4 linked regions of the Homo sapiens genome follow. The protein of the gene in region 1 purifies or fractionates together with the protein of each later gene. This does not show direct contact. Each region holds a gene or a part of one and is shown in the gene's direction. Other genes may lie near its edges.

Region 1 (7,028 bases):
ATGCACCACCACACCTGGCTAATTTTTAAATTTTTTATAGAGACAGGGTCTTACTTTGTTGCCTGGGCTGGTCTCAAATTCCTGGGCTCAAGGGATCATCCCACTTCGGCCTCTCAAAAGCTCTGGAATTATAGATGTGAGCTGCCGTGCCCAGCCCAGGATCTTCCTTTATATGCTTTTCTGTAATTTGCACTTTTACCTTCATCCAGCATATCTTACTGCAACCCTTCCTGTGCAAGGCCCTATAGTGAGCATGTTGCACCAGCTTGCCTTAGGAGAAACTTGAGATACAGAGCCTGCACTGGAAATTTAGCGCAACTCTACATGAGAATGCCTGTCTATTCATATCCTCACTAACCCTGAGTGTTGTTAATTTACTGAAAGCAGTTTTAAATGCTTCCTGACCAGGGAACGAAGAAGCTTAAGTTCTGGGAATGGGAGGATAGAAGTGCCAGAAAAGAGCTCAGGAGTTCAGAAATCCCTGCAGCGGTCCCCCTCCCTCTCCTTTCACTTTCTGTCTTTCTGGTCTTTTGGTCTTTGTTACACTAGTGATAAACCATCAAAGAATGATGGAATGATGCTAACTTCTCTCTTTTTTTAATTTTTTTGAGACAGAGTCTCACTCTGTCACCCAGGTTAGAGTGCAGTGGCATGATCTTGGCTTACTGCAACCTCCTCCTCCCAGGTTCAAGCGATTCTTAGTCACAACCTTCCAAGTAGCTGGGATTACAGGCCCATGCCACCATGCCTGGCTATTTTTTTGTATTTTAGTAGATCGACCTGCCTCGGCCTCTCAAATTTTTGGGATTACAGGTGTCAGCCACTGCACCTGGCCTAATATCTCTATTCTTGGAGATAGATTTAATGAGCTTTTTCTCCCTCTCTATTCACTTATTCCTTGTGCATGTTATCAATATTTTGAAACATAATGTCATGTCCTTTGATCAGTTGAAGGCTGACATTGAAAAGGCTTATGGGGATTGGGTGTTGTGGCTCACGCCTGTAAATCCCAATGCTTTGGGAGGCAGAGTCGGGAGGATCACTTGAACCCAGGAGTTTGAGACCAGCCTGGGCAACAAAGTGAGATCCCATCCCTACAAAAATTTAAAAAACTAGACATGTGCCATTACACTTCAGCCTGGGTGACAGAGTGAGACTCCATCTCAAAAAACTAAACTAAACTAAACAGGCATGGTGGCACACACCTATAGTTCTAGCTACTCAGGAAGCTGAGGTAGGAGGATCACTCATGTCCAGGAGTTGGAGGAGGCAGTGAGCTATGATCATGCCATTGCACTGCACTAGGCCACAGAGTGGGACCCTGTCTCAAAAAAAAAAAAAGAAAGAAAGAAAAGAAAGGGCTCATGTAGTTCAAGCCCTTCTCTTCATGCAAGGGGATGCTAAGGCCCATGATGGTGAAGGGCCTGGCAAAGCTTGCACAGATAGTGTGTGACAGAGCTGGCTCAAACCCATCTTTGGGAGCTGTCTAATCTCTTTTTCTGAGTCTTTATGTTCATAGACAAGTTAGGATGAGTAAAGTAAGTGCTAAATTCCATATTTCGTGTTCTGCATATCTGGGCTCAGATGCTTGTCATTTTCCAGTGATAACTCCATCAATGCCTCCTAGTGGTATAAATTTTAATACTTCTTGTGTGCCCAGCCCCCTCTTAGAAATTTGAGATTTTAGGAAGGGACTAGTAATAAAAGGTAAAATAAATTATTTTCTGGCCAGGCATGGTGGCTCACACCTGTAATGCCAGTACTTCGGGAGGTCGAGGCAGATGGATCACCTGAGGTCAGGAGTTCAAGACCAGCCTGGCCAACAAGGCAAAATCCCATCTCTACTAAAAATGCAAAAATTATCCGGGAGTGGTGGTGGGTGCCTGTAATCCCAGCTACTTGGGAGGCTGAGGCAGGAGAATCACTTGAACTTGGGAGGCGGAGGTTGCAGTGAGCTGAGACTGTGCCACTGCACTCCAGCCTGGGCAACAGAGTAAGACTCTATCTCAAAAAAAAAAAAAAAAAAAAAAAGGCCAGGCGCAGTGGCTTACACCTGTAATCTCTCAGGAGGCTCAGGCAGGAGAATCACTTGAACCCGGGAAATGGAGGTTGCAGTGAGCCGAGATTGCACCACTGCACTCCAGCTCAAAAAATAAATAAATAAATAAATTATTTTCTTTTTTTATTTATTTTTTCAGCATCCACCCAACATGGTGAAAAATTCCTCTTTTCTTAATGTCACTGAACTGTAAACTTAAGATGAAAAATTGTAAATTTCATGCTATATATATTTCACCACAATAAAAAAATTCCTTGTTCTTATTGTAGTGGTCTCCATGTCTTCAGTATTTCCTTCCCCTTCTCCATCTCACCTGTATACATTCACTTTGGTAATTAGCATCTTTCTTAATTTATTGGCAGGATAACGTCATTAGCAGAATCTCAACTTCAGACCCGTCAACAAATTAAGAAACTGGAGGAGTTGCAGCAAAAAGTTTCCTACAAAGGGGACCCCATTGTACAGCACCGGCCGATGCTGGAGGAGAGAATCGTGGAGCTGTTTAGAAACTTAATGAAAAGGTAATTTAGCATCCTTGTCCCTTTCCCTCATCTAAAAAATACCTAAAGACTCACGTGGTAGAGTGAGAGGCGGGCTGACTTCTGGTCATGGCCGTGGCGCGTGAGCCCATCTTCTCTTTCCTCAGTGCCTTTGTGGTGGAGCGGCAGCCCTGCATGCCCATGCATCCTGACCGGCCCCTCGTCATCAAGACCGGCGTCCAGTTCACTACTAAAGTCAGGTAGGCCATGCCACTTCCATTTCCAGTAGAGATTTTACTGAGGGACACTGTTAGGGTGAGGGTAGAGTTGGTGGCCAGGGTCATTCTTTCCAGGTGTGGTGTCACAGGCAGTACACTGTTGCGGGGTTGAAATTTGTTGCCATACTATCTGCTTGCTCTCTGATTCTGATGTCAAAAGCAAAAGAGCAGTCATCTTTTTGAAGGTACCTGGGCATATTCCTATGATTGTAGACCTGGAGTCTCAGGCCACAGCTTCTCCTTCTGCCCAAGGGACAAAATAATGTCATCTATTTTCTGTTCTTTGAGGCTACTCTTCCCTGTGGATTTTAAGGGAAAGAGTAAGGCTTAGTGATGGGGAAGCTGAGAGGCCCCAGGGCAGGTGGGTGGTGGGCCTGTAGGGTGAGGTGTTACTTTCACACTCAAGTCAGAACAGGTGTGCTGGGGTTTTGACCTTCTGCAGCAAAATTTCCCTCCTCAGAAACTTAGTATGGTGTTCGGTTTCAGGATTAATAGAACAAAATGCCAGCTGCACAGCATGTGTTCCTGTAATATTTTTCATTATATGGCTTTGATTATCCTTTTGTGAATCTCTCACAACTTTAAGTTGTTAGTTCTTAGATGTTTTCTCAGTACCTTTGGCTTGAAGGAGTGATACTCATCTTTTGTTTTTGTTTGAGACAGGGTCTCACTCTCACCCAGGCTGGTGTGCAGTGGCATGATCTCAGCTCACTGCAACCTCCATCTCCCAGGTTCAAGTGATTCTTGTGCCTCAGCCTCCTGAGTAACTGGGAATAGAGGTGCGTGCCACCACACCCGGCTAATTTTTTTTTTTTTGAGACAGAGTCTCGCTCTTTCGGCCAGGCCAGAGTGCGTGTTGCAATCTCAACTCACTGCAACCTCCACCTCCCAGGTTCAAGCGATTCTCCTGCCTTAGCCTCCCTGAGTAGCTGGACCGGCACACTCCACCATGCCCGGCTAATTTTTGTATTTTTAGTAGAGACAGGGTTTCTCCATGTTGGCCAGGCTGGTCTCAAAACTCCTGACCTCAGTAATCCACCCACCCCGGCCTCCAAAAGTGCTGGGATTACAGATGTGAGCCACCACGCTCGGCCTTTTTTTTTTTTTTTTTTTTTTTGAGATGGAGTCTTTCTCTATCACCCAGGCTAGAGTGCTGAGGTGTGATCTCGGATCACTGCAGCCTCTGCCTCCTGGGTTCAAGTGATTCTCCTGCCTCAGCCTCCCAAGTAGCTGGGATTACAGGTACCTGCCACCATGCCCGGCTGATTTTTGTATTTTTAGTAGAGACGGGGTTTCACCATCTTGGCCAGGCTGGTCTCGAACTCCTGACCTTGTGATCCACCTGCCTTGGCCTCCCAAAGTGCTGGGATTACAGGTGTGAGTCACCGCACCCAGCCCTATTTTAATTTTTTTAAAGAGAGAGATAGGGGCCAGGCACGGTGGCTCTCGCCTGTAATCCCAGCACTTTGGGAGGCCAAGGTGGGTGGATCACCTGAGGTCGGGAGTTCGAGACCATCCTGACCAACATGGAGAAACTCTGTCTCTACTAAAAATACAAAATTAGCTGAGCGTGGTGGCGCGCGCCTGTAATCCCAGCTACTTGAGAGGCTGAGGCAGGAGAATCACTTGAACCCAGGAGGCGGAGGTTGCGGTGAACGGAGATTGCGCCATTGCACTCCAGCCTGGGTAACGAGAGAAACTGTCTCAAAAAAAAAAAAAGAGAAAGAGAGATAGGATCTCGCTCTGTCATCTAGGCTAGAGTGCAGTGGCATGATCATAGATCACTGTAGCCTTGAACTCCTGGGCACAAGTGATCCTCTTGCCTCAGCCTCCCGAGTAACTGCGACTACAGGTACATGCTACCACACCCCGCTAATTTTTAAATTTTTTATAGATGTGGGCTCTCACTTTGTTGCCCAGACTGTTATGGAACTCCTGGGCTCAAGGGATCCTCCCAGCTTGGCCTCCCACAGTGCTGAGATTATAGATGTGAGCCTGTAATTATAGACAGCTTGGCCTATTTACCTGTTGGAAATGAAGAATTATGAATTTTACATTTCTTCAAGAAAAGGTTATGGGAGAGTTACTGACTTTTTTTCCTTGGATTTTTTCTTTTTAAATAGGTTGCTGGTCAAATTCCCTGAGTTGAATTATCAGCTTAAAATTAAAGTGTGCATTGACAAGTAAGTACTCCTATCTTAGCTCTGTTTTTCAAATGAGGAATAGAAAAATGAGAACTTTGACAGACATCATTTGAACTAGAGACTCTGTCTTTATTCAGAGATCTTCATTTTGTGGACAAAAGTTTTCAAAAGCCTTGGGGTGCATTGTCATTTACGTGTCTGAACAAAGCCACAAAGCTGGGGGTACAGATTTGATTTGTGGTTGCTATTGTGACAACCAGTCCCTCTTTTCCTTGTTTAGTTTTTTACTTGTACATGTCATTCATGCATATTATATATAAGACTGAGATCATGTGTTAATTAACGACTGGGATACGTTCTGCAAAATGTATCATTAGGCAATTTTGTTGTGCAAATGTTGTAGAGTATATAGTCCTTACACAAACCTGGGTGGCAGAACCTACTGCACACCTACGCTATGTGGCAGAGCCTACTGGTCGTAGGCTGTAAACCTGTACAGTATGTTACTGTGCTGAATACCGTAGGCAATTGTAACACATCTCAATGAAGTAGGAATTTTTCAGCTCCATGATAATCTTATGGGACCACCATCATATATGCATTTTGTTGTTGACCGAAACGTCGTTATATATTCTTTCCATACATAGCATGTGGAAAGAATAGATCTCTTTTTTTTAATTGTTCCACACTTTACCATATAATGGAATACGCAAAATTTCACAATACCTTTCAGGATGTAAAATACATATACCCTTTGACGACATTAGAAAAGAGAAAATGTGGGCCGGGCGCGGTGGCTCATGCCTGTAATCCCAGCACTTTGGGAGGCCGAGGCGGGCGGATCACGAGGTCAGGAGATCGAGACCATCCTGGGTAACACGGTGAAACCCCGTCTCTACTAAAAATACAAAAAAACTAGCTGGGCGTGGTGGCGGGCACCTGTAGTCCCAGCTACTCAGGAGGCTGAGGCAGGAGAATGGCATGAACCTGGGAGGTGGAGTTTGCAGTGAGCCAAGATCACACCACTGCACTCCAGCCTGGGCGACAGAGACTCCATCTCAAAAAAAAAAAAAAAGAAAAGAAAAGAGAAAATGTGGCTGGGCGCGGTGGCTCACGCCTGTAATCTCAGCACTTTGGGAGGCTGAGGTGGGCAGATCACCTGAGGTCGAGAGTTCGAAACCAGCCCGACCAACATGGAGAAACCTTGTCTCTACTAAAAATACAAAATTAGCCAGGTGTGTTGGCGCATGCCCGTAATCCCAGCTACACGGGAGGCTGAGGCAGGAGAATCACTTGAACTCAGGAGGTGGAGGTTGTGGTGAGCCGAGATCACACCATTGCACTCCAGCCTGGGCAACAAGAGCGAAACTATCTCAAAAAAAAAAAAAGAAAAAAGAAAAGATAAAATGCATTCTTATTTTTAGTTGATGTAATTATGTGGAAATTTCATGAGGATGCACTGGAAAATAATGAAATAAGGGAGTTGACGAAGGTGGTAGGTTTAATAAGTACATATGCAATATGAAACATAGGTTCCCCTTCCTATGGGGAGGCAACCAACTGTGCCTGCTACGCAGAGGTGTTATGTTGCGCTGATCAACTGTAACTGAATAGTTTAAAGAAATGCCCAGGAGCACAGAGGTTTTTTCATGACAGTAAATAACAGGTGGTCAAAGTAGGCTTTTTGAAGAAACACAGAGCCTATTTTATTAACAACAGTCTGTGTTCTTACAGAGACTCTGGGGACGTTGCAGCTCTCAGAGGGTAAGTTCAGCCTAGAGGCTTCCTTTTGTTCCGTTTAACCTAACTTCATCCTCCGGCTACTTGGTCACCTACATAGTTGATTGTTCCCCTGTGATTCAGATCCCGGAAATTTAACATTCTGGGCACAAACACAAAAGTGATGAACATGGAAGAATCCAACAACGGCAGCCTCTCTGCAGAATTCAAACACTTGGTATGTGGGAGGAGCTCCCCTTCACAAAGGGCCTCTGGCTGCCGGAGAGGGCTAGGGAGAGCCTCACAGGACACCTGCCTTTTTCTTTTCTTACAGACCCTGAGGGAGCAG
Region 2 (7,028 bases), on another chromosome or scaffold:
CCAAATGTGATTATACCATACAGGTGCAGCTAAGGTGAGTTCATCCTCCCTGCCTATCCTGGGTACCCACTGGGGGTAGGAGTGAAGTAGGGGTATGACAGATACCCTTACGAGATGTCCCTGCTCTGCCACTGCCTACTGCAGCCCTGCGACTCTTGTTGGATGCTGAGGGCTTCAGGCATCTATGACTGATTTTCTGGGGTTCCCTGTCTCTCTGCCAGATTCAAGTTAAGAAATTTCTTCCCACTCTTTCTTCCTTTCTCATCTCTTACCAGGTTCTGTCTCTGTGAGACCAGCTGCCCCCAGGAAGATTATTTTCCCCCCAACCTCTTTGTCAAGGTCAATGGGAAACTGTGCCCCCTGCCGGTAAATGCTCTCCCCTTCTTCTGTCAGTAATCCCTTACCGTTTCAGTTCATAAATATTAACTACAAACCTATTCTGAAAGAGACATGCCTAGCACAGTGCGTGGCACATAGTAGGTGCTCAGTTTACTGACTGAATCAATAGAATCTCGAGAGTATTAAGATAGGGCTGAACAAAGGTTTTGTGAGAACTCGGAGGAGGACATTAGTTCAACCCGAGATGTAAGAAAGACTTCTTTTTTGTTTTTTTTTTTTGAGACAGAGTCACTCGCTCTGTCACTCAGGCTGGAGTGCAATGGTGCAATCTCTGCTCACTGCAACCTCTGCCTCCCTAGTTCAAGCAATTCTCTTGCCTCAGCCTCCCAAGTAGCTGGGATTACAGGTGCCCACCACCCTGCCCGGCTAATTTTTGTATTTTTAGTAGAGACGGAGTTTTACCATGTTAGCTAGGCTGGTCTCGAACTCCTGACCTCAGGTGATCCACCCACCTCGGCTTCCTAAAGTGCTGGGATTACAGGCATGAGCCAGTACACCCGGCCAGAAAGACTTGACCCCAGAGCTGAGAGTTAGAAAAGGTGAGGCATCCTTATTCCTCCTCCTCAGGGACTCAGTGAGTTCCTTTTTTCTCAGTCAATAAATAAGCTCTCCTTTCTCCCCAGGAGTGAACCCCACACATAACCCTAGACAGTGCTCCAGTTTTGTGAGCCACTGAATGGGCCTCCATCCCCTTGGTCAGTGAGTGAGCGAGTTGGCCTTCCCTCCAGGGATTGAATAACCCGAGACAAGATATCTTTTGTTCAAAGAGCAGAGCCCCTTCCCAGAGCCACTTCTCCACTGACCAATCCCTCCCTTCTCCAGGGTTACCTTCCCCCAACCAAGAATGGGGCCGAGCCCAAGAGGCCCAGCCGCCCCATCAACATCACACCCCTGGCTCGACTCTCAGCCACTGTTCCCAACACCATTGTGGTCAATTGGTCATCTGAGTTCGGACGGGTGAGCACAGCTAAAGCAGGTGCCTGGAAAAGCCTGCTGAGGGTGAAGGGGAACCATCCAGTGTCCTGGGTTGGGGAAGCATTTTCCTCTTTATGAGTCTGTCTCTGGTCCTCATGGAACAAAAGTGGGCAGTGGTGGTATGAGAAGCAGAGGCTAATTGTCTACCCCCTGCCTCCAAGTAGAATTACTCCTTGTCTGTGTACCTGGTGAGGCAGTTGACTGCAGGAACCCTTCTACAAAAACTCAGAGCAAAGGGTATCCGGAACCCAGACCACTCGCGGGCACTGAGTGAGTAACATCTTTCCTCTCTTCCCCACCTGATCTGGATTCAAGTCTTCCTGGCCCTCCAGCCTTCATAATTAAACCCATACCTCTTTTTTGACAACTTACTCCCCTTCTCACATGAACCCCAACCCTCCCCCTCTACCCCTGACCAGTCTTCCAGTCTTTATAGTTGAAGTTGGACCACTCCCAGGCACCCTTGAATTTCCAATCATGTATCTGCTTTGCACCTCACAGTCCCTAACTCCAGCCCTGCTAGAATATGGGCTCTCCGGACTGGAAAGAATCTTAGGGGTCCTCTAATCTAACCCTCACATGATGCTTCAACTCCTCCAGATCATCTCTAACATAGCCAGAGTGTCACGCTATGTTTAAGCATCTTCAGGGATGGGAAAATCCCCCACACCCAGCCTTCATCATCCATATCCCAGACCACTTCCATGTGACGTCCCACTGGCCCCCAAAGACGCTCCACCCAGCAGCCTCTCAGCCAGAGCCATCTGTTCCTGGCCTTACCAACTCCTGGGCTTCCTCCAGCCTTGCTGACCCCATGGCTCTGGCCTCACTTTTGTTTCAGTCAAGGAGAAATTGACTGCTGACCCTGACAGTGAGGTGGCCACTACAAGTCTCCGGGTGTCACTCATGTGCCCGGTGGGTAAAAGGGGAGAAGGGAACAGGGTGGGAAGGGAGTTGGGTTTAGCCTGTGGACTTTGATGAGGGTTCCTAGGGATACTGGCGTGAAGTTTTCTGGGATGAAATCAGAGTAGGGCCTCTGACAAGAGAACTTGCTTCTCCTCAGCTAGGGAAGATGCGCCTGACTGTCCCTTGTCGTGCCCTCACCTGCGCCCACCTGCAGAGCTTCGATGCTGCCCTTTATCTACAGATGAATGAGAAGAAGCCTACATGGACATGTCCTGTGTGTGACAAGAAGGCTCCCTATGAATCTCTTATCATTGATGGGTAGGGCCATTTTGCTTCCTCTTACCTAGGACATCCACTAGAACCTCTTTTCTTGGTTATTTCTTTTTCTTTTTCTTTTCTTTTTTTTTTTTTTGAGATGGAATCTTACTCTGTTCCCCAGGCTGGAGTGCAGTGGCACAATCTTGGCTCACTGCAACCTCCACCTCCCGGGTTCAGGCGATACTCCTGCCTCAGCCTCCTGAGTAGCTGGGATTACAGGCACCCACCACCATGCCTGGCTAATTTTTGTATTTTTAGTAAAGACTGGGTTTCACCATGTTGGCCAGGCTGGTCTTGAACTCCTGACCTCAGGTGATCTGCCCACTTCAGCCTCCTAAAGTGCTGGGATTACAGGCATGAGACAACATGCCCAGCCTATAATATTTCTTTTTTCTTTTAGCCACCACCTCCTTCAGGGTTTTTAATTCATATGGCTTACTTCCCCTCACATGAACTGCAATTCTCACCTTATCTATCCCTTTTACCAGTCTGTGTGTGTGTGTGTGTATGTGCATGTGTGTGGAGGGGGAGGGCAACATTAAGGACTTAGTATATACAAGGCATCTTGCTGAGCACTTTGCATGAGTTATCTCATTGAATCCTCACAATAACCCTATGGACTCGGCTCCTACCTGTAATTCCAACACTGGAAGGCTGAGATGGGAAGATCATTTGAGGCTAGGAGTTTGAGACCAGCCTGGGCAACATAGTAGACCCTCTCTCTATAAAAAATTAAAAAAATTAGCCAGGCATGTTATAATAGCTCATGACTGTAGTCTTAGCTGCTCAGGAGGCTGAGGCAGGAGGATGGCTTGAACCCAGGAGTTTGAGGCTGCAGTGAGCTATGATTGCATTACTGCACCCCAGCCTGGGCAACAGATTGAGACCCTGTCTCAAAAAAAGAAATAATCCTATGATTGGCTAGTGACACTCACCCAGAAAAAAAAAAAGAAAAAAAAAAACCCTATGAGATAGGTAGTATCATTACACATGAGGAAACTGAGGCCGAGAGAGATTGAGCCTTGCTCAAGGTTATATTGTTAAGTGGCAGAGCCAGTGTACTGAACTGTCATAATATATCACCTATAACAACTACCTGACTTCCCACTGAGCATTGCAATAAGGTTCTTTTCAGGGCCTGGATGTTCTAATCTTTTGATCTTGCTAGTCTTAACCTCTTTTTGGAATCTACATTATGGTTCCTGTTCCCAGTGCTCCCCCACTTTTTGTTTGTTTGTTTGTTTTTGAGACAGGGTCTCGTTCTGTTGCCCAGACTGGAGTATAGTAGCACAATCATAGCTCACTGCAGCCTCGACCTCCTGGCCTCAAGTGATCCTCCCACCTTGGCCTCCCAAAGTGCTAGGATTGCAGGCATGAGCTACCATGCCTGGCCCCTAGTGCCTTTATTTATTTATTTTTACACAAGTGTTTAGAAAGCCAAAGACCCAGTGCCTTTTGGAGATGGTTTATGGACTTCTGTGTCTCTGCTCCTTTTGTTCCTTATACTACACGTAAGTGCTCAGATTTTTTTTTTTTTTTTTTTTGAGACGGTGTTTCACTCTGTCACCCAGGCTGGAGTGGTATGGCACAGTCTCGTGATCTCAGCTCATGCAACCTCTGCCTCCTGGGTTCAAGCAATTCTCCTGCCTCAGCCTCCTGAGTAGCTGGGATTACAGGCATGTGCCGCCACATCCGGCTAATTTTGTATTTTTGGTAGAGATGGGGTTTCACCATGTTGGCCAGGCTGGTCTCGAACTCCTGACCTCAGGTGATCCACCCACCTCAGTCTCTGAAAGTGTGATTATAGGCGTGAGCCACCACGCCGGCTTTTTTTTTTTTTTTTTTTTTGAGGCAGAGCCTTGCTCTGTTTCCCAGGGTGGAGAACAGTGGTGTGGTCTAGGCTCACTGCAACCTCTGCCTCCTGGGTTCAAGCGATTCTCGTGCCTCAGCCTCCTAAGTAGCTGGGATTATAGGCATGTGCCACCACACCTGGCTAATTTTTGTATTTTTAGTAGAGATGAGGTTTCACCATGTTGGCCAGGCTGGTCTTGAACTCCCAGCCTCAAGTGATTCACCTGCCTGTACCTCCCAAAGTGCTGGGATTAAAGGCGTGAGCCACTGCACCCAGCCTCAGATTGTATTTATTTTAAAACCTATTACTTACTTTGCAAAGCTCTTTTACATACCTTGTGTTATTTGATTCCAACAACTCAGAGCGGTCCAGTAGGATGGATAATGTTCTTATTTTACAGATGAGGAAACTGAGATACAGGAAGGTGAGTTACAGAACTCTGGCTACTGTTCTGCTCATCTCCCAGCCCCGTGAATTTTCATCTCTCTCTTCCCCCAGTTTATTTATGGAGATTCTTAGTTCCTGTTCAGATTGTGATGAGATCCAATTCATGGAAGATGGATCCTGGTGCCCAATGAAACCCAAGAAGGAGGCATCTGAGGTTTGCCCCCCGCCAGGGTATGGGCTGGATGGTGAGTGACCCCCTGTTCCCCAGCTAAGCTAAATCTTGGATGGCCTCTTCTCTGAGACGTAGTCTTCTTAATACCCACAGGCCTCCAGTACAGCCCAGTCCAGGGGGGAGATCCATCAGAGAATAAGAAGAAGGTCGAAGTTATTGACTTGACAATAGAAAGCTCATCAGATGAGGAGGATCTGCCCCCTACCAAGAAGCACTGTTCTGTCACCTCAGCTGCCATCCCGGCCCTACCTGGAAGCAAAGGGTATGAGAAAATAGGCTGAGTCTACAGCAAAACGGACAGGGGAAGAAGTCAGGATTGCTTTCTGATCATTGGACAAAGCCTGGGGCAAGAGAAATGTGGAGGGGACAGAGAGGGAACCTGGGGACCTGAGCTGGGTGAGGGCATCTGTGGTTTGCTGGCTGCCTCAGCTCCTCTCTACCCACAGAGTCCTGACATCTGGCCACCAGCCATCCTCGGTGCTAAGGAGCCCTGCTATGGGCACGTTGGGTGGGGATTTCCTGTCCAGTCTCCCACTACATGAGTACCCACCTGCCTTCCCACTGGGAGCCGACATCCAAGGTATGACATGGGTCATAAGATGGACCCTGCACTGCCACACCCTCCCCAGAGCTACATCAGAACCCCTGTTCCTTCTCAAAGCCTCCTGCTTCTCCTGCAAGGGGCCACAGTCCACAGTGCTTTGTCTTTTGGTGGTAAAGGGGTCAGATAGGAGGTTAATTTTGATTTTTCTTTTCCTGCCAGGTTTAGATTTATTTTCATTTCTTCAGACAGAGAGTCAGGTAAGTGGTTCTTTCTTCAGAAGGTCTCAGATCTCTGAAGCTTCCTTTCTAGACACTGATGGGGCCCCTCCCTCTCTTATGATCTCTGGGGATGTAAATCTGCTTTCCCGTGAGGGCAGTGGGGTGTAGGTATCTTATTATCTCCTCAGCCCCACTGGTAGTTCCTGAGATTCCTACTTAGGCCTCCTTCCTAGATCCCCTGTTACTTTTCTGCCCTGGCCTACTCACCCCTACCCCCGTGTGCACTTAGAGCACCATGCCTGCTCTAACCGGACATTCCACACATTTCAGACGCCCACAAAGCCAAGAACCTAACAAGTTGGAGGAGCTCTCTCAAGGCAGGGAAAGGGGAAGGGTGTAGGGAAGTAGGGGAAAGAGGGAGAGGCTCTCCTGCTTCTCAAGAGAATACCTTCGGATCCACAGGGGTTGATTGCTCTCATACGGCATTTCTGAGATGAGTGACTGGGAGGTGGGGAAGTCGGGATTGAGATCTTAAACTATGCCCTTGATTCTTCCTAGCACTATGGCCCCTCTGTCATCACCTCACTAGATGAACAGGATGCCCTTGGCCACTTCTTCCAGTACCGAGGGACCCCTTCTCACTTTCTGGGCCCACTGGCCCCCACGCTGGGGAGCTCCCACTGCAGCGCCACTCCGGCGCCCCCTCCTGGCCGTGTCAGCAGCATTGTGGCCCCTGGGGGGGCCTTGAGGGAGGGGCATGGAGGACCCCTGCCCTCAGGTCCCTCTTTGACTGGCTGTCGGTCAGACATCATTTCCCTGGACTGAGTTCCCTGGATTATGGAAACTTCGCTGTCCCCCAACACTGAGCAAGTATGCTGTGGAGTCCCAACCCCAGCTACTCTGATCCCTCTGGGGGCTCTGGCCAAGGGCCAGACAGACCTTCACAGATGCCTACTTTTGGCCTCATCTCTGCCTGACAAGGCCAGCACCCAAAGGGTTAATATTTAACCTCTTTTTAAGGACACTGGGGTCTGTTTCTGGAAATGTTCTTTAGATGGTGGCACATTCCTTTGGGTATGTTAACCTAGGCAGTGGGAGGCAAATGGGATGGTATGTGAGCTAGGAGAAGGGCTGAACCCTCAGCCTTGACTATGTCTAGAGCCTCTTGGGGAAGGGGCACCTCTCTTGAACCCCAAA
Region 3 (7,272 bases), on another chromosome or scaffold:
AAAGTCCCTGAAAGGCCAAGGCTAAGCTGTGGCTCTGTTGCAGCCCAGCAGGGAAGGCCAAAATAGAATGAGTTATGTGCTCTGAGCTTGTCTGGATTCTGGGAAATGCAGCAGCAGCCACAGTCCGCAGGTGGTCCCCACTCAGGCCAAATCGTGTTCGTAAGCAAAGGCCCTCCCACCTCAGTATGGTGGGCAGTATGGAATCATTGCTTCCTAGAGCTAGAAGGGACCTCATTCATGGTTCTACCACAGCCCTCGCCCCCACCATTTAGGGAGAAAAATGATACAAATAGAGGCAAGGAGAGGGGTAGGAGGCTGCCACACCTCCAGAGCCTCCAGGGAGTGAATGACAGCATAAGTCTTGCCCAGACCCAAGCCTAGTACTGTCTCTCTTCAGCCCAGGTCTGGACCCACCTTCCCTGTCCCTGTGCATTTCCAACAGCCTGAGTTGCTACTTAGCCTTTCCTCAGAGCCCCTTCCTTGTTTCTCTGAGCATATACAGGGTGTGTGTGTGTGTGTGTGTGTGTGTGTGTGTGTGTGCGTGTGTGCGTGTGTGTGTTTGAGCCCCAGTTAGGATGAGGCCACAAGCAGAAACAGAAAAGAGGAGGCTCCTGTCATTGCTTTTCCTACTTGGGAATTTCCCCTGGGGCAGGGGTAGGGGAGGAGCCCATGAGAGTCACAGGCTGGACAGGGCCTGCTGCAGTCAACAGGTCCAGGTCTGAGAGCAGGTACTGCCATTAGTGCCATTAGGAAAGAATGCAGAGGCAGCAGCCACAGAGGGAACGTCTGGGCTGGAGAGGGCAGAACTCCTCAAGTCCAGGCAGACAGAGCCTGCAAAGTGAAACCAAGGGGACTCGCAAAGAAGGAGGGTTCTGTTCCTGCCACAGAAGTGCAGCCTCCCCAGCAACAGGAATCCCTGGAGGAGAAACCCACCCTGGGCTTTCTCAGATCCCCCAGAGAAAGGCCACACCACTTGGAGACTGTTGTCATGGCAGCAGCTGCCCAGTGCTGTGTGTAAATGTGGGTGGAGCCCACTGCCCAGGAGCAGTTTTACATAGTGGTTAAAGGTACAATCTCTCATGCCACACTGCCTATGTTTTGTTTTTTTTGTTTTCTTTTGTTTTCAGATGGAATCTCTTATTGGCCAGGCTGGAGTACAGTGGCACAATCACGGCTCACTGAAGCCTTGAGTTCCCAGGCCTCTAACCTCGGCCTCCCAAGGAACTGGACCACCTGGGACCGCAGGTGTGCACCACCATGCCTGGCTAATTTTTATCGTTTCTAGAGACAGGATCTCACTATGTTACCCAGGCTGGTCTTGAATTCCTGGGCTCAAGCTATTCTCCCATCATGGCCTCCCAAAGTGTTGGGATTACAGGCGTGAGCCACTGCACCTAGCCTTAGGTTTTAAATCCCATCTCAGCTACTTACTATCATCTGTGTTTCCATGGGAACAATTTGTCACCTCCCAGAGCTCAGTTGTCACACTTTTGAAATGGGTTTCAAAACAAACACTCATTAGTAATAATGGACCAAGCAATATACCCTCATAGGACCCTAAATCAAGGGTATCAAATCAAATCCATCAGAAGGACAGCCCCACCCCAACCCCAACCCTACACAAACAAGTAGCAGATCACACTTCTTTGTAACAAATGATTGTCATTTGGTAGCAGAATCACCTTTACCTTATTCCCTCTTGAGAGTCCTTTCTCTTAAGGGAACCCGAGATCAGCTACTGCTGGGCAGACTTAGAGCCCACATGGAGACTCGGTCTTCATTCCTCCTCTCCTGCTTCTATTTCCTCACACCTCCTTATCTGCCCTCCATATTTACTAAGTTCTCATCAAAGTTTAATTTATACCGGTGCAGGAGCTTTCAGGGACTATAGTGTCTTCTATTAGCAGCACTAGAAAGCAAGCAATCTGAGAAGCCACATGAGAGATGAGAGGAAGGGAACTAGCTCGGCAGGGCATACTCCTGGTTTCACATGCAATAAGGAAAAGAAATTTTTTTCACTTGGAGTCAGAACTCTCTGCTGAGATACCTATAGATCTTTCCCGAGTTTGCTGACTTTATCACCCTATTTAGTACTAGTGGCATGCTTTAAATTAATGATTTGCAGCTAATATACAGAATGATAGAATCTGGATTCAAAGATTGAGGGAGTGAATCTAATGAGACAAAATTTAACCCAGAAAAAATTAGAAGCTTCTATACTTGAGTTAAAACTAAAAAGATTTACAGAAGTGGATTAACAGCTTGAAGTATGAAATAAGGGAGGGGTCTAGTTGACTGCAACTTAAACTGGATTCAATTGTGTGATATGGCATTCACAAAATCTACTATAATTTTAGGATGCATCCATAGATGTATAGCACCTATTCTAAAATGAAGGAGGTGGTAAGATCACTCCATTCTGCACTAGGCAGTATATTCAGTGTTTTCAGAGACATTTACACATTCAGGAATGTGTAGAATAATGAATGACTTTGAAAAAATATGTCACATCAGAAATGGCTGAAATAACTGGGGAGGTTAAACCCCCCAAAAAAGTCTTGGTGAGAACATAATTCTTTAAGGATTATGTGAGATGGCATATTGAAAATACTTAGTGCAATGCCTGGCATAAAGTACACAATTAATCTTAATATTAAAAGGATGTTAATTAGTAGTATTGTTAGCACTGTGTCATACTATTATTATTACTATTATTATAGTTAATGCTTATAGAGTGCTTTCTATGTGCTAGGCTCTATTCCAGATCCTTTACATAGGTTGACTCATTGACTCAGTTATTCCTCTTACAATTCTATGAGGTAGGTACTATTATTGTCTCCAATGTTGTAGATGAGGAAGCTGAGTCACAGAAGATTGAGTAGATTGCCTAGTGTGTCTCACAGAATGGAAGGGGAAAGAACCAGAATAGAAGCTGTGGCAATTTTAAGCTGTCAAGGATGAAAGGTACTTTTATTATTTTATACCTGTTCTGTACCACTCCACAGGGCAGAGCCAGGACCAATGTGTGTAAACTACTGGGAGGCAGATTTTAACTCAACAGAAGCAAAAATCAATTAATTAATTAATTTTAAAACTCTGAATGATTAGAACTTTCTGAGATTTCAGTGAGATATCTTATAAGGCAGTGAGTTCTCCATCACAGGATTTAAGAAGAATAAGGATAGAAATGAATGAAATGGGACTTCTCTAGGAAAGAAACTATACAAATGAGAAACCAACCCTTGATGAAAAAATAAGAAGGCATAGTGAAACTTGGTTTTAAAGACACATCTCACAGAGAAATTGGAAAGTAAAACAGTTATAAAAAAGATATGAAGGTAAACTAATATTTGTCTAAATGCTATCTCAACACAAAGTTAATCAGATATCAGAGAAAAGCAACAAACAGTTCTTAAAAGGGGAAATTTCACATGAATTTCTGTTCAGAAACTTACTAAACAGCCTGGCTTTAAAACAAAATCCCAGGATCCTCACAGATCAGATGGTCATCTACCCTGAAAGTGTAAAACACAGAGGGAAGGGAAGTAGTATGCTCTGTAGGGGAAAGAGCATCTGCATAAGAAAGTAGCATCCAGGCTGATGTGAGTAGATGAGAGGCAGGCATAAGGTTAAAGATCATAAAATACTGTTAGATAAAAAAAAATACATATTGCAATGACAATTGAAAATGCTAGCATAATTGTAGTCCTGCTATTCAGTATGTGGTCAACAGAATTATTGCATAGTTTAATATGGAATGCCCTCCCTGCTGCATCTATCTTTTGGGGTCCAGCAGTCCCAGAACTCAAATATTTGTTGATTTAGTGAATTAATATAAACTTCCTCAACCAGAAGCACCAAGAGGTGGCTGGTTAAGGATTGAGAGTCCCAGTAAAATCTATTTATTCTATTATGAATAACTACTGAATAATTTATATATATGTACACATGTATATAAATATATTTTATAATCTATTCAGTGTGTATACATGCATATATATGCGTGTATATATATACACGCATATATATGTGTGTATATATATACACACATAGAGAGAATAATGCCAAGCTCTCCACCAAGGACTATCCCATTTCAGATAATAAGTGTTCTGGACTGTTTGTACTTAGATGGACAAATACGTATTTGATTTATGAAAATCAAAGTATTCATTCTTTTTAGATCTACAAACTTTACAAACTCAACTCTTTCTACAGGTCTCGAACTGAATGATTACCAATTTAGATCTGGGGGCTCAAAAAAACAAAATGTGATGTCAAGAAAAAGTGAAAGATTGTCTCCCATGAAAGTGACAAGAGATGAAACATGCTGAATGAGCCTAAATGGACATGATGGAGATACGGATGTGGATTAAAACTGAGAGTGTTGGGATATAAGGATATAATACTGATTTATGAAGGTGAACAGTCAAACGTCAGTGCAGGATCTGAACTGCAGGGGAAATAAGGGGCCTTGGTGGCTAAGGAAGGGAGGAGGGGAGAAAGAGGTGGTACTAGGGGAAGTAGCACAGAGGAAGAGGCAATACTACCCGAGACTAGATGCGGACCGTCTCTGGCAACCAGGAAAAGGCAAATACAAAGAGAGGTGAGTGACAATGCCTGGTGTGTCTCGGGTCAGAGAACACTAGCAGGCACTAGCAGGTGGCTGCGGCAGGGCCGCAGATCAAAGTGGTAACTGGGGATCTGAGTTCGGCAGTGACGCGCGTCCCTCACGTGACCAGGAGCCTCTATGTGCCCAAGTCCCTCTCGTCCCGGTCTTTTTTTTGCCTGTCCACCATCTCCCTATTACCCTTTGGTCGAGAGGGAAAGCAGAAGAAGTAAGTTCCCTCTACCCTCTTAAATCGGTGTGAGTGTCGGCGCTGCCTAGTAACCCGGGGAATGGGGTTGACAGAATCGGGATGGCGGAGTCCAGGCCTTTCCCTAAGCTCCAGCCCCGCCCCCCGCGCCCACATTTCTGTGCAAAATATGGTGGTCTTTGGGGCGGGGTGGGGAGGCGAGTACCTCCCCCGTCCCCCGGGAGGGGGGTACAGACATTTGGAAATAGTTTCTAAAAATGCTTCGCTTCCACTTCTCATCTGAAAAGAAATGGCAAGCTTTGCGGGGTGGGGAGGTGGGAGCACGGAGGACGAAGCTTGACGCAGGGGCTGAGACGAAAAGAGAACCCGAGAGCTAGGGGAGCGTGCAGGCAGTGGCTGGTGCCCAGAAAGTGGGGGGTGGGGGGTGTCAGTCAGTCCGTCCCTCCTCCCCACTCCCCGCCCCCTACCCTGTCTTGCGTCTGTGTGCAGGTCTGCTGGTCACAGCGGGGCACCTCGAGGAGAGGACGACTAGGAGCACACGGCCCGGAAAGGTCCAGGTCAGGGAAGGGGTACGCAGTGGGCCGGGACTGGGGCGCGAGGGTGGACGCCGAAAGGCATGGAGTCTGCAGGCCGCACTGTCCCGCCCCTGTCACTGCGGGCGAGGCCTGTAGCAAAGCCTGCTGGGAAAATGGTGGGCTTTCGGGAAGGAGGGGGCGACCGGGAAGCGGCGGAGTCGGGAGAGCCGGAGAGCCTCTGGGAAAGCGCAAGGTTGAGGACCTGGCCCCCGAATCAGGAAAAGGCAGGTATTGGAACCCACGGCCTGGGTGTTAGTCCAGCCGCTTAGTATTCTGACTCTATTCTGCCTTTCTTGTCTCCTAAGAATAACTGTGCTTGAAGAAGAAAATTCCCAACATGGACAAACCACGCAAAGAAAATGAAGAAGAGCCGCAGAGCGCGCCCAAGACCGATGAGGAGAGGCCTCCGGTGGAGCACTCTCCCGAAAAGCAGTCCCCCGAGGAGCAGTCTTCGGAGGAGCAGTCCTCGGAGGAGGAGTTCTTTCCTGAGGAGCTCTTGCCTGAGCTCCTGCCTGAGATGCTCCTCTCGGAGGAGCGCCCTCCGCAGGAGGGTCTTTCCAGGAAGGACCTGTTTGAGGGGCGCCCTCCCATGGAGCAGCCTCCTTGTGGAGTAGGAAAACATAAGCTTGAAGAAGGAAGCTTTAAAGAAAGGTTGGCTCGTTCTCGCCCGCAATTTAGAGGGGACATACATGGCAGAAATTTAAGCAATGAGGAGATGATACAGGCAGCAGATGAGCTAGAAGAGATGAAAAGAGTAAGAAACAAACTGATGATAATGCACTGGAAGGCAAAACGGAGCCGTCCTTATCCTATTTAATGTGTTCGGCCTTTAATTCTGTTTTGCCTGCTAATAGTATTGCCATTGCCACCTGGACTTTCTGTTTGCATTTTCTTAATGCCTTTTCCCATATTCTGAATTTTAACTTTTTGTGAGGCTTTATTTTAGATGTTTAGCATGTAACTCGCTTAAAGTTGAGGTTTCCCCCTAAAATCTACAAGTTTCCCTCTTTCAGTCATGAGCCCTACACATTTGCATGAAAGATGTACATTATATATTGTGAAACGAAAAAAGCAATTTTCAAATGGTATATATTGTATCCCATTTTTGTAAAAAAAATGTATATTTATATATTAATATGCAAAGAAAAAGCTAAAAGTATAGACTTCAAAGGCATAACAGTGGTTGTGTGGTAAGATAATAGGTGATTTTTTAAATTTTTGTTTTATCTGAATTTCTCATTTTTTCAGGACAAACGTTTTACTTGTGTTGCAAAAATATATAATGAAAAAATCACACAATTTTGAAGAAAACTGTCAATCAGCTTATAACGACAATGTGGCACTTAATAAATACTTGTCAGAACTTTAAAAAAAGTGAATCCTATGTTTTTTTCTGAATCTCTTAGGCACAAATATTAGCCAGATATGGATTATATTTAATAGTCATTTTGTTCTCATTTAAATAGGAATAATACTTGCTTTACAGTGCTACTGTGGGACCAGATGAGAAAAAGGTTGTGTGAGCTATGTTCGGGGTCTTTATTCCACCTGCACAGGCAGGACCCCAACCCCTATAGATTCCCTGCAGACATAGGGAAGGTACCCAAAGGAGATCTCACTTGTGCTCACAAACAATTCCGGTGAGATTCCAAGTGAGTGCCACATTCTATTCATGTCCTGCTGTACTCTCAGATACCTACCGTATCTGCTAGGCACAGCTGCTCCTTCTCCTGGGTCCTGATCCTTCCACTGGCTCTCATCCCTGCTGACGTGCTGGACTGCTTAAGGTACAAAGCCTCACTGATTGCTCTGGAGTCCCTGGTGGGCCCAAGCTGAATTGTGTCTCCTGCAGATATATGAATGCCCTTCTTCCAGCTTTAATA
Region 4 (7,990 bases), on another chromosome or scaffold:
GTGCAGGGATTACAGGCATGAGCCACCGCGCTCGGCCTGGTTGTCATAAAATTAATGTTATATTGCCTCCTCTTCCACACCTGGTAATAACTGCAAATGTTTATCATCTTTTATCTCTTTCCAATATTCTATCAAAAGATTACTGGAAGTAAGGCTGGGTGCGGTGGCTCAAGCCTGTAATCCCAGCACTTTGGGAGGCCAAGGTGGGTGGATCACTTGAGGTCAGGAGTTCAAGACCAGTCTGGTCAACATGGTGAAACCCCATCTCTACTAAAAATACAAAAATTAGTGGGACACAGTGGTACATGCCTGTAATCCCAGCTACTTGGGAGGCTGAGGCAGGAGAATCGCTTAAACCTGGGAGGCAGAAGTTGTAGTGAGCCGAGATCGCGCCACTGCACTCCAGCCTGGGCAACAGAGCAAGACTCCATCTTCCAAAAAAAAAAAAAAGAGAGAGACACCCCCCACCCTCCGCCCAAGCAGCTCAACTGTCCTCTTCCCCACCATTTTTTTGGGTGGCTGAGCAACTTATCACCTGAGTTTTAGGCTTATGGATTTGAAGCATGTACTCCTGCATTTGAGTATTAGTTCTCCTGTCCCACCTTCCCAGAAAAACATTATCTTTTATAGAGTATGTTAATCACAGTCCACAAAACCAAATATGTCAAGTTGCCTGCCACCACTGAGGCCACCATTGTTTTTGTAGGCTCCTGTGGTTCTCCACACCATCCCAGCCTCCTCAACCCCCAAATTATTGCTGGACTACAGAAATCTTGAATCTTTGGCAGGGTTGGGAACCCATGGGCCTCTAAAGCAGACTCCCTGGAGGCACCAATATAACCCTTCCCTTTTGGTGTCATAGTTTTCCCCCACTAGGACCCGAATCATCTCTATTTTAGGGGCAAACAATTCTTTCTGCTTCTCTCAAGCATTCGGCCTCTTCCTTCAAATATTTTTTCTTTTTTTTCAGGTTGAGATTCTTTATTCTGGAGGTAGGAAGGGGGTCAGCATGCTCAGGTAGGGAGGGTCCAGCCCAGCTCCTCCAGCCCCCCAGTGCTTGCCCAGCCCCAATAAGTTACCCAGTTAATCAGCTGCCCTCCCTCCTGGGTCCGTCTGTCCTTCTGTTCCACCCTAGACAGGGCCAACCTGGCTCAATACAAGGGCTGCTTGTCCCCAGCCTGTGGGCAGTGCCACATGGCAGGCTGGGGGAGAGATGAAGCAGCAGGACCATGCCCTGGGTCTGGAGGGGCAGAGGGGCCACTTCTGGCTTCAAGCGGTCAGGACTTGGAAAACCACATGCTGGGCAGGCCTGGGGCCCAGTCCCACAAGGTCTGTGCCTGAAAAGAGGTGGTAGTTGGGGTGGGGCCGCCATCACACCTCAATTGCTGGGTCTGAGCCCTGGCCCTGCCGCTGCAGCTGCTCCTTCTGCTTCATCTTGGGCTTCGCTGTCCGTGTATGTCACACCAGTACCCGAGTGCAGTTGGCAGCCCGTGGCTCCAGGTCCTTGGGATCCACAAGGTGGCTTAGAAGACTGCTCTCCAGGTGGCTCCGGGGAGCAGTGGAATCAAACTGGGCATTGGGCTTAGCTAACAGCAAGGGCAGGGCCACAGCAAATCCGGCCATATCCACAGGGAAGGGCCCGTTGGGCTCCCATGCTGTGTGGAAGCCCACTACCCGGCTGTCCTGTACCTGAGGGCCCTTGACTCGCAGGCCACCCACCAGCCCCACAGGCCACACTGAGACACCACGGGTCCAGCGCATCTCCTCAAACAGCTCCCAGCTGTAGGTGTTGCCACTGTCAGCAAAGTACACGACTCCTTGGGTCCCTGGTGGTGATGGGTCCTTCTTCCCACCCACAGCACTCCCTCTGCCCCGGAGCCAGTCCAGGGCCTTGTTCCGCTGCTCGACACCATGGGGATGAACCCAGCCAGGCTTGCCCTCCCGAAGCCGCTGGGCTTTGGGCGTGAGGACCACCAGGTGTGTGAAGAGGAGGCCAGAGGCAGCCAGCAGCCCTGAGACCAGCGGGGTGGGACCCTCAGCATCCTCCACCAGCAGTCAATGCAGCCGGGGCACCAGGCTCAGTGTCTGGGACAGCCGTACCAACTCTGCCTTCTGTACCAGCCTGGCATAGGTGGGGGTAACAACATAGATAGTAGGCAGGGCCTCGGGTTCAGGGGGCTGGGCAGGGGCAGGGGGTGGCCGTCGGAGTTCCGCTTGCAGCTGGGAAATCCTCAGATCCTTCTGCCGTAGCTGCTCAGCTGCTGCCCGCAGGGGAGGAAGGCAGTCACATGGCTGGCCAGCGCGTAGAGGAGGCCGGCGATCGACACCAGGAAGTAGGCGAGAAACACGTTCTTCACCTTCAGCTTCATGGCCACGCCGCTGCCGCCTGCGCCCCAGCAGGCGGGGTCTCTCAAATATTATTTTTCTCCATGGGCTCAGGCTTTTTGGGAAACAACAGCCAGTAAGTCTAGTGTGAGGTTCTTCAGTTTTCTTGCTACATACATAACCGTTTTGAGGTAAGAAAGCACAGAGGGGAAAACAGGTGAAAAACATTAAAGCTCAGAAACATTTTCAGCCATATTAATTCAATTCCAGAAGCAATTAAACTTTGTTTAAAGACAATAATTTAATAGAAATATAGTACATTTACTGCTATGGAAAAATAATTCATAATACGTTGGGTTTTTTTGTTTGTTTTTGAGACAGGGTCTCACTCAGCTGCCCAGGCTGGAGTGCAGTGGTGTGATCATAACTCACTGTGGCCCTGATTTCCTGGGCTCAAGCAATCTTCCTGCCTCAGTCTTCCAAGTAGCTGGGACTACAGGTGTGAGCCACCACTCCGGCTAATTATTTTATTTTTTGTAGAGCTGGGTTCTCACTTTGTGGCCCAGACTGCTCTCAAATTCCCGGGCTCAAGCAGTTCTTCCACTTTGGCCTCCCAAAGTGCTGGAATTACACACATGAGCCACCACGCCTGTCCCACATGTTGTTTTGACAGGAAGTTACAAAGATGTCTATCAGGATGACTCCAATGTTTAATAGAAAATGTACATAAAGTCAAAACGAATATTTACCACCATGAAACAGTAGCTACCACTACAATTCACACTTCATAAGCAACCTTTTAAGGAGCTGAATTGGTGAAGCTATCTGAGATTGACTAAGGCCTAATATTGCCTTACTTTCTGCTTTATATCTTTAATATTTTCTGTAATTTACTGAATAAAAGCCTAGGACCTGGATGTACTGCAATGTGCAGTATATAGAGCTCATAGCTTTTTTTTTTTTCTGGAATGCAGTGGTGCCATTTTGGCTCACTGCAACCTCCGCCTCCCGGGTTCAAGCGATTCTCCTGCCCCAGCCTCCCAACTAGCTGGAATGACAGGTGCCTGCCACCATGCCCGGCTAATTTTTGTATTTTTAGTAGAGACGGGGTTTCACCATGTTGGCCAGGCTGGTCTCGAACTCCTGACCTCAGGTGATCCACCTGCCTTGGCCTCCAGAAAGTGCTGGGATTACAGGCCTGGGCCACTGCACCTGGCCTAGAGCCCATATCTTTATTTAGCACATTAGTAAACAAAATGACTTTATAGTTATTGGAAGTTAAATAATTCAAACTTAAAGCTGTTGGAACTTTATTCCGAGCCTTGGGAGGAATGTGGCTACAGCCTGAGTCAAGCAGCAGGCATCTGCAACGTCTGCCTTTTGTTTCTATAAATAATTAAAATAGGAGGACCAAACCATACCAGAGATACAACCCCCTGAGATCACTACCCCCCCTCATGGAGTAACAAAATACTTTTTCTTGGAATGTAGTAATCTGTAACCTACCAAATAGCTGTAAGTATGCACTGGTCTCTTAGGGGAAATGAAATCCTGTTAAAATTTGTCTCTGGCCACCTAGGCGAAACCCTAACTTCTTCACTTTGGAATGCTAACCCCATTTGGAGCTGGTGTCTCCTGGGTGGCTACCCTCAAGCCTTACGCTGGAATAAACTCTATCCTTAATCATATTTCCAGAACCTCACTATTTAAGGTTGACAGGAGAGGGAAGCGGTGATGTCTTGAGATAAAGCTGAATAAAGTTTCTCAAGAAAAAAAGGGAAAGGAACCTCTAAGCTGTACGTTGTTTTCTAACTCTAGGGAGTTAGAGGTGAAGTAGGAACTTGAAGTTGGAAGTGTTGAGTTGGACAGCCCTCATCTCTAGGCAATACTTTCATAAAGTGGAAAAACGGGGGAAGAGGACGAAGGCTAGGGAGAGACGCAGGGATCTACCCAACCCAGTCCTGAGTTTCCCACTCGCTCTTGGAGTTGAGTACAAAGAGCGCTCCAAAGCCCCTTCTCCTGTGCTCAGCCCAGTGCTCCGGTGGGTCAGGTCTCCGGAATGCGTAAACAAAAGCAAACAGCTGAGCGGCGGAGGGCGCAGGCGACAGATGTGGGTGTTCCCTGAGAATGTGTGGCGACTTCCCGGAGCAGCGGGTCTGTGAGGCAACGATGGAAGACACTGCGCTCCACAGCATAGCAGGAGGCCCCGCCCCGTGTGGCGCCAAGTAAAAGATAATTCCTCAGAAGCCGTCGGCCACCGGCGCTTCGCCTCGTCCCGCGCCAGGCCCAGCCTCTCCCCCAGACCACCGGTGCCATGCGGATTCCCCAGGCGGGACCCCAGCTCACGAGGCCCACTGGCCGAAGCTCCCCACAGGATAGAGAGCCGCTCCTGCGAGGCCAAGCTTCCGAGAGGCGGCCTGCGCCTAGCACGCAGGCGCGGAAAGCTGGGCGCCAGCCTTAAACTGACTCCCGCCACCTGCCTCGGGCCGCGCCGTCCACCGTTTACTTTCGAACGAGCCCAGCAATAGTTCCCATTGGCCGATGCCTTGCAGTTGAATGTTGCCTGCAGACTGCGCCTGCGCTGCGAGGCTCCGCGAGGCCCCGCCCGGTCTGGGCACCTGAAGCCCTTCGGGGCAGAGGAGGGCGGGGACTCGGGGCGGCTCTCAGCATCCGCCTGGAGCTCGTGGCGCTGTGTTTCCGTGCTGTGGAGTTGCCTGGTCCGCTTCCTCCCCGCGGTGAGTCTAAGGACCTTTACGGATGCGGAGAAGGTGGTTCTGAGTCCTTTTTCTTTTCCTGTAGCACAGTCTGGTGTGCCTAGTGTGTTGGGCGGGGAGTCCTGGGGGCGCGACGATGGAGGGAGTGGCTTGGGACCTGCACTCATTCCCTCTTGTCCCATACTGGAGTTTGGGGAGCCACTTTCCCGTCCCTCCACTGTGGAGCTGCGTTCCTGTGAGGGAGGAGGCCCTCTGTGGTGGCGAGGGTGAGCTGAGCGGACGCCGCCGAGTCGGTCAGTCCCGCGGGGTTGGGGACGGGCGGGTGCCGAGGTGGAGGCGCGTTAGGAGGGAGGCCTGGGAGAGTGGAGCTTTGAGAAGGGGAAGGGAAGAGTACTGCCATTTTGAGCCCCTTTGTGGGAGGTGCTCGCAGGACTTAAGTGAGGTAGGTGCAGTTACCCATTTTACAGATGTGAAGCCTCACTTTTGAGAGGTATTTGGTAATACTGACCCAGGTCCCACAGCATTGAAATGGCAGAACAGAGAGATGAGCAAACTATACTAAATCAGTTATAATTTAGAGCTGGCAAGGTATTTTACTCCCATGGATGCTTTTGTCTTGCAGTTAATTTTAAGCACTCTAAAATGACCGTGAATGTTTTTTCTGCCATCACCATTGTTGGGTAATATTGTCGAGAGCTCATAAGCTACTTGACGTTGTGAAAAGAGGTCCTTTGTGACAGTCTGTTTGGTCAGAGTTAGGATTTTCAAGGAACAAGCGATACCTCTACTGCAGCTCCAGCAACTGTGTTGGTGTTTGTGGCTTTTCTGAAAACACGATGAAGCATCGTGAAGATAAATATCAAAGACAGTGAACTAACAACCATTTTTATGACATGAGACAATAAATTGAAAACATTAAAGATAACATTATTTTAATTTTAGAATAAGAATAAAAGATTCTGGAGGAGTTGGAGAAGAGTGTATTCAGCCCCCAAACCACGAGATCAACAAAGTAGGTAATCTGGGAGATTAAATAAATATGAAAAACAATTAAGTTTTTACAGAGTGTATGATTTAAACTACAAAGTGAAATTTAGAAGTCTTTTGAAAAAACATTGTGTTGGCGGTGTATAAAACTCCAACCATTTTATCGAAGGAGCGGAGCATAAAGTGAAAAATAAACAACTCCCTTCTCTGATCTGTACCTTAAAAGTAGTCACTTAACTCTTTTGTACATCCTTCTAGAAATTTTACAAGAATGTGTACATCTCAAAACACATGCAAAGTTGTTATTTTATACATACAGATCTGCAGAACTACACAAAACTGCAAATTAAGTTACCTGGATACTTTTTCACTATGCATTCATGTATTGGTCTTTTTAAATGAGTAAGTAGCTATTTAATCTGGCAAGGTGAAATTTTGATTTTAGGTGATGTTAGTTTTGACATTGCCTTTCACTAAACACGTTGATGAATATTTCCCACCAGATATATTTTTACTTTGAAAAGTACAGCAAAAGCAATTAAAGCCTTAATTTCTCAAGTCAATTCCGGTTAAATTGAATTAATAGTCTTTTTTTGTTTTGTTTCTAGTTTTTATTTTTATTTTTTAGTTTAGGGAAACAGGTTGATATCAAAATGAAAGAAAATAGTACAGATGGACAAAGAGATTTAAAATCAGCTGACCATAGGATTTTTTTAATTTGAAAAAGTTAAGGTGATCTCTCACTATTTTTGTATATTTATATGTGACAGAATTATTTTTAAAAATCTTGTTTCTCAGACTTTCTGCGATAATGTTAAAAAAATCTTATATATGTTTATAAATGGTGCAGTTGTAGTTATTTCTTAAGTAAGTCTTGACTTGCATGAAATGTATTTCTTCTTTATCAGTTAGGTCCACAAAGATGTGAGCCCCAGTTTGGGTGGTGGCACCACTTGAATTTTCCCATACTTAAAGCTGACTCACTAGAAGTCTTGGGACAAGTCATCGAATTCTATAATGTAATAAATATATTTTCCTTTCAGAGGTTGTGAAATGTAATGAACGTTTTACAACTGTTCATGTTTAGAGTTGAAAGGCAGGAAAGCATTAGTGAATTAAAACTTAAAAACTGGTTTACACAGGAGAATGGGTAATGATATTTTCGGTGCTATTTAATCATCTATTATACTGTCTATTACCTAATATGCCAGTTAGACATCAGGGAGGCTCACTAGTGAATTGGCCCTCTGGAGAAAGACTTAATAAAAAGTTTGGAAATTCAGAAATGTATTTGTTTTGACACTTAAACACACTAGACATTAGTGAAATAATTTGTAAGTAGAGTGATTTAGCCTCAGGTTTCTTTCTGAGAAGATTCATTTTTTTATATTAATATTTCTCGGTTTTAAAAGAGAAGCAGGAAATCTTGAACTTGGTTTTTACATGAGCTTAGTACTCACTAGAGGAAAATACATTTTACATGGATTATTTTACTTTTTTGCTTTTTAAAAACATACAGTAGTATAAATTGATTCAAATTCATTTAGCAAAAGGAAGACTGGATAATAGGCAAGACGCTTGAAAATTTTTTAAAGTTTTTTTTTTATTGTGTAAAATATGCTAAACATAAAATTTACCATTTTAATCTTTTTAAGTATGCAGTTTGGTGGTATTAAATACATTCAAATTGTTTTGTAATTATCACCATCAACTATCTCCGTTAACTTTTTCATCTTCCCAAACTGAAACTGTGTACCCATTAAACCAGCAGTCCTCAACCTTTTTGGCACCAGGGACCGGTCTTGTGGAAGGCAATTTTTCTGTGGACGGGTGGGGGTGGGTGGTGCATGGTTTTGGGATAAAACTGTTCTACCGCACATCATCAGGCATTAGTTAGATTCTCACAGTGAGCCACAACCTAGATCCCTCGCGTGCGCAGTTCACAGTAGGGTTCACGCTGTTAT

The links.
Region 2: the proteins of STAT3 (region 1) and PIAS3 purify together in Homo sapiens (affinity purification with western blotting; 5 studies listed by BioGRID). This does not show direct contact.
Region 3: the proteins of STAT3 (region 1) and TCEAL1 purify together in Homo sapiens (affinity purification with mass spectrometry; 3 studies listed by BioGRID and IntAct, with this or other methods). This does not show direct contact.
Region 4: the proteins of STAT3 (region 1) and TRIM59 purify together in Homo sapiens (affinity purification with western blotting; 4 studies listed by BioGRID). This does not show direct contact.

Annotation. Positions count from the first base shown.
Region 1 is NC_000017.11:42,329,443-42,336,470, reverse strand, and holds part of STAT3 (signal transducer and activator of transcription 3), read left to right. Parts: intron 1-2,421; coding exon 2,422-2,580; intron 2,581-2,705; coding exon 2,706-2,798; intron 2,799-4,939; coding exon 4,940-4,999; intron 5,000-6,679; coding exon of another isoform or gene 6,680-6,694; coding exon 6,695-6,724; intron 6,725-6,823; coding exon 6,824-6,917; intron 6,918-7,013; coding exon 7,014-7,028. UniProt on the Homo sapiens protein: Signal transducer and transcription activator that mediates cellular responses to interleukins, KITLG/SCF, LEP and other growth factors. Once activated, recruits coactivators, such as NCOA1 or MED1, to the promoter region of the target gene.
Region 2 is NC_000001.11:145,849,074-145,856,101, reverse strand, and holds part of PIAS3 (E3 SUMO-protein ligase PIAS3), read left to right. Parts: coding exon 1-34; intron 35-275; coding exon 276-366; intron 367-1,221; coding exon 1,222-1,356; intron 1,357-1,538; coding exon 1,539-1,644; intron 1,645-2,215; coding exon 2,216-2,289; intron 2,290-2,437; coding exon 2,438-2,598; intron 2,599-4,948; coding exon 4,949-5,082; intron 5,083-5,162; coding exon 5,163-5,331; intron 5,332-5,456; exon of another isoform or gene 5,457-5,515; coding exon 5,516-5,649; intron 5,650-5,832; coding exon 5,833-5,870; intron 5,871-6,389; coding exon 6,390-6,656; 3' UTR 6,657-7,028. UniProt on the Homo sapiens protein: Functions as an E3-type small ubiquitin-like modifier (SUMO) ligase, stabilizing the interaction between UBE2I and the substrate, and as a SUMO-tethering factor.
Region 3 is NC_000023.11:103,624,191-103,631,462, forward strand, and holds TCEAL1 (transcription elongation factor A protein-like 1), read left to right. Parts: upstream 1-4,784; 5' UTR 4,785-4,835; intron 4,836-5,303; 5' UTR 5,304-5,383; intron 5,384-5,694; 5' UTR 5,695-5,726; coding exon 5,727-6,206; 3' UTR 6,207-6,763; downstream 6,764-7,272.
Region 4 is NC_000003.12:160,446,787-160,454,776, reverse strand, and holds the start of TRIM59 (tripartite motif-containing protein 59), read left to right. Parts: upstream 1-4,990; 5' UTR 4,991-5,060; intron 5,061-5,981; 5' UTR 5,982-6,051; intron 6,052-7,990. UniProt on the Homo sapiens protein: E3 ubiquitin ligase involved in different processes such as development and immune response. Serves as a negative regulator for innate immune signaling pathways by suppressing RLR-induced activation of IRF3/7 and NF-kappa-B via interaction with adapter ECSIT.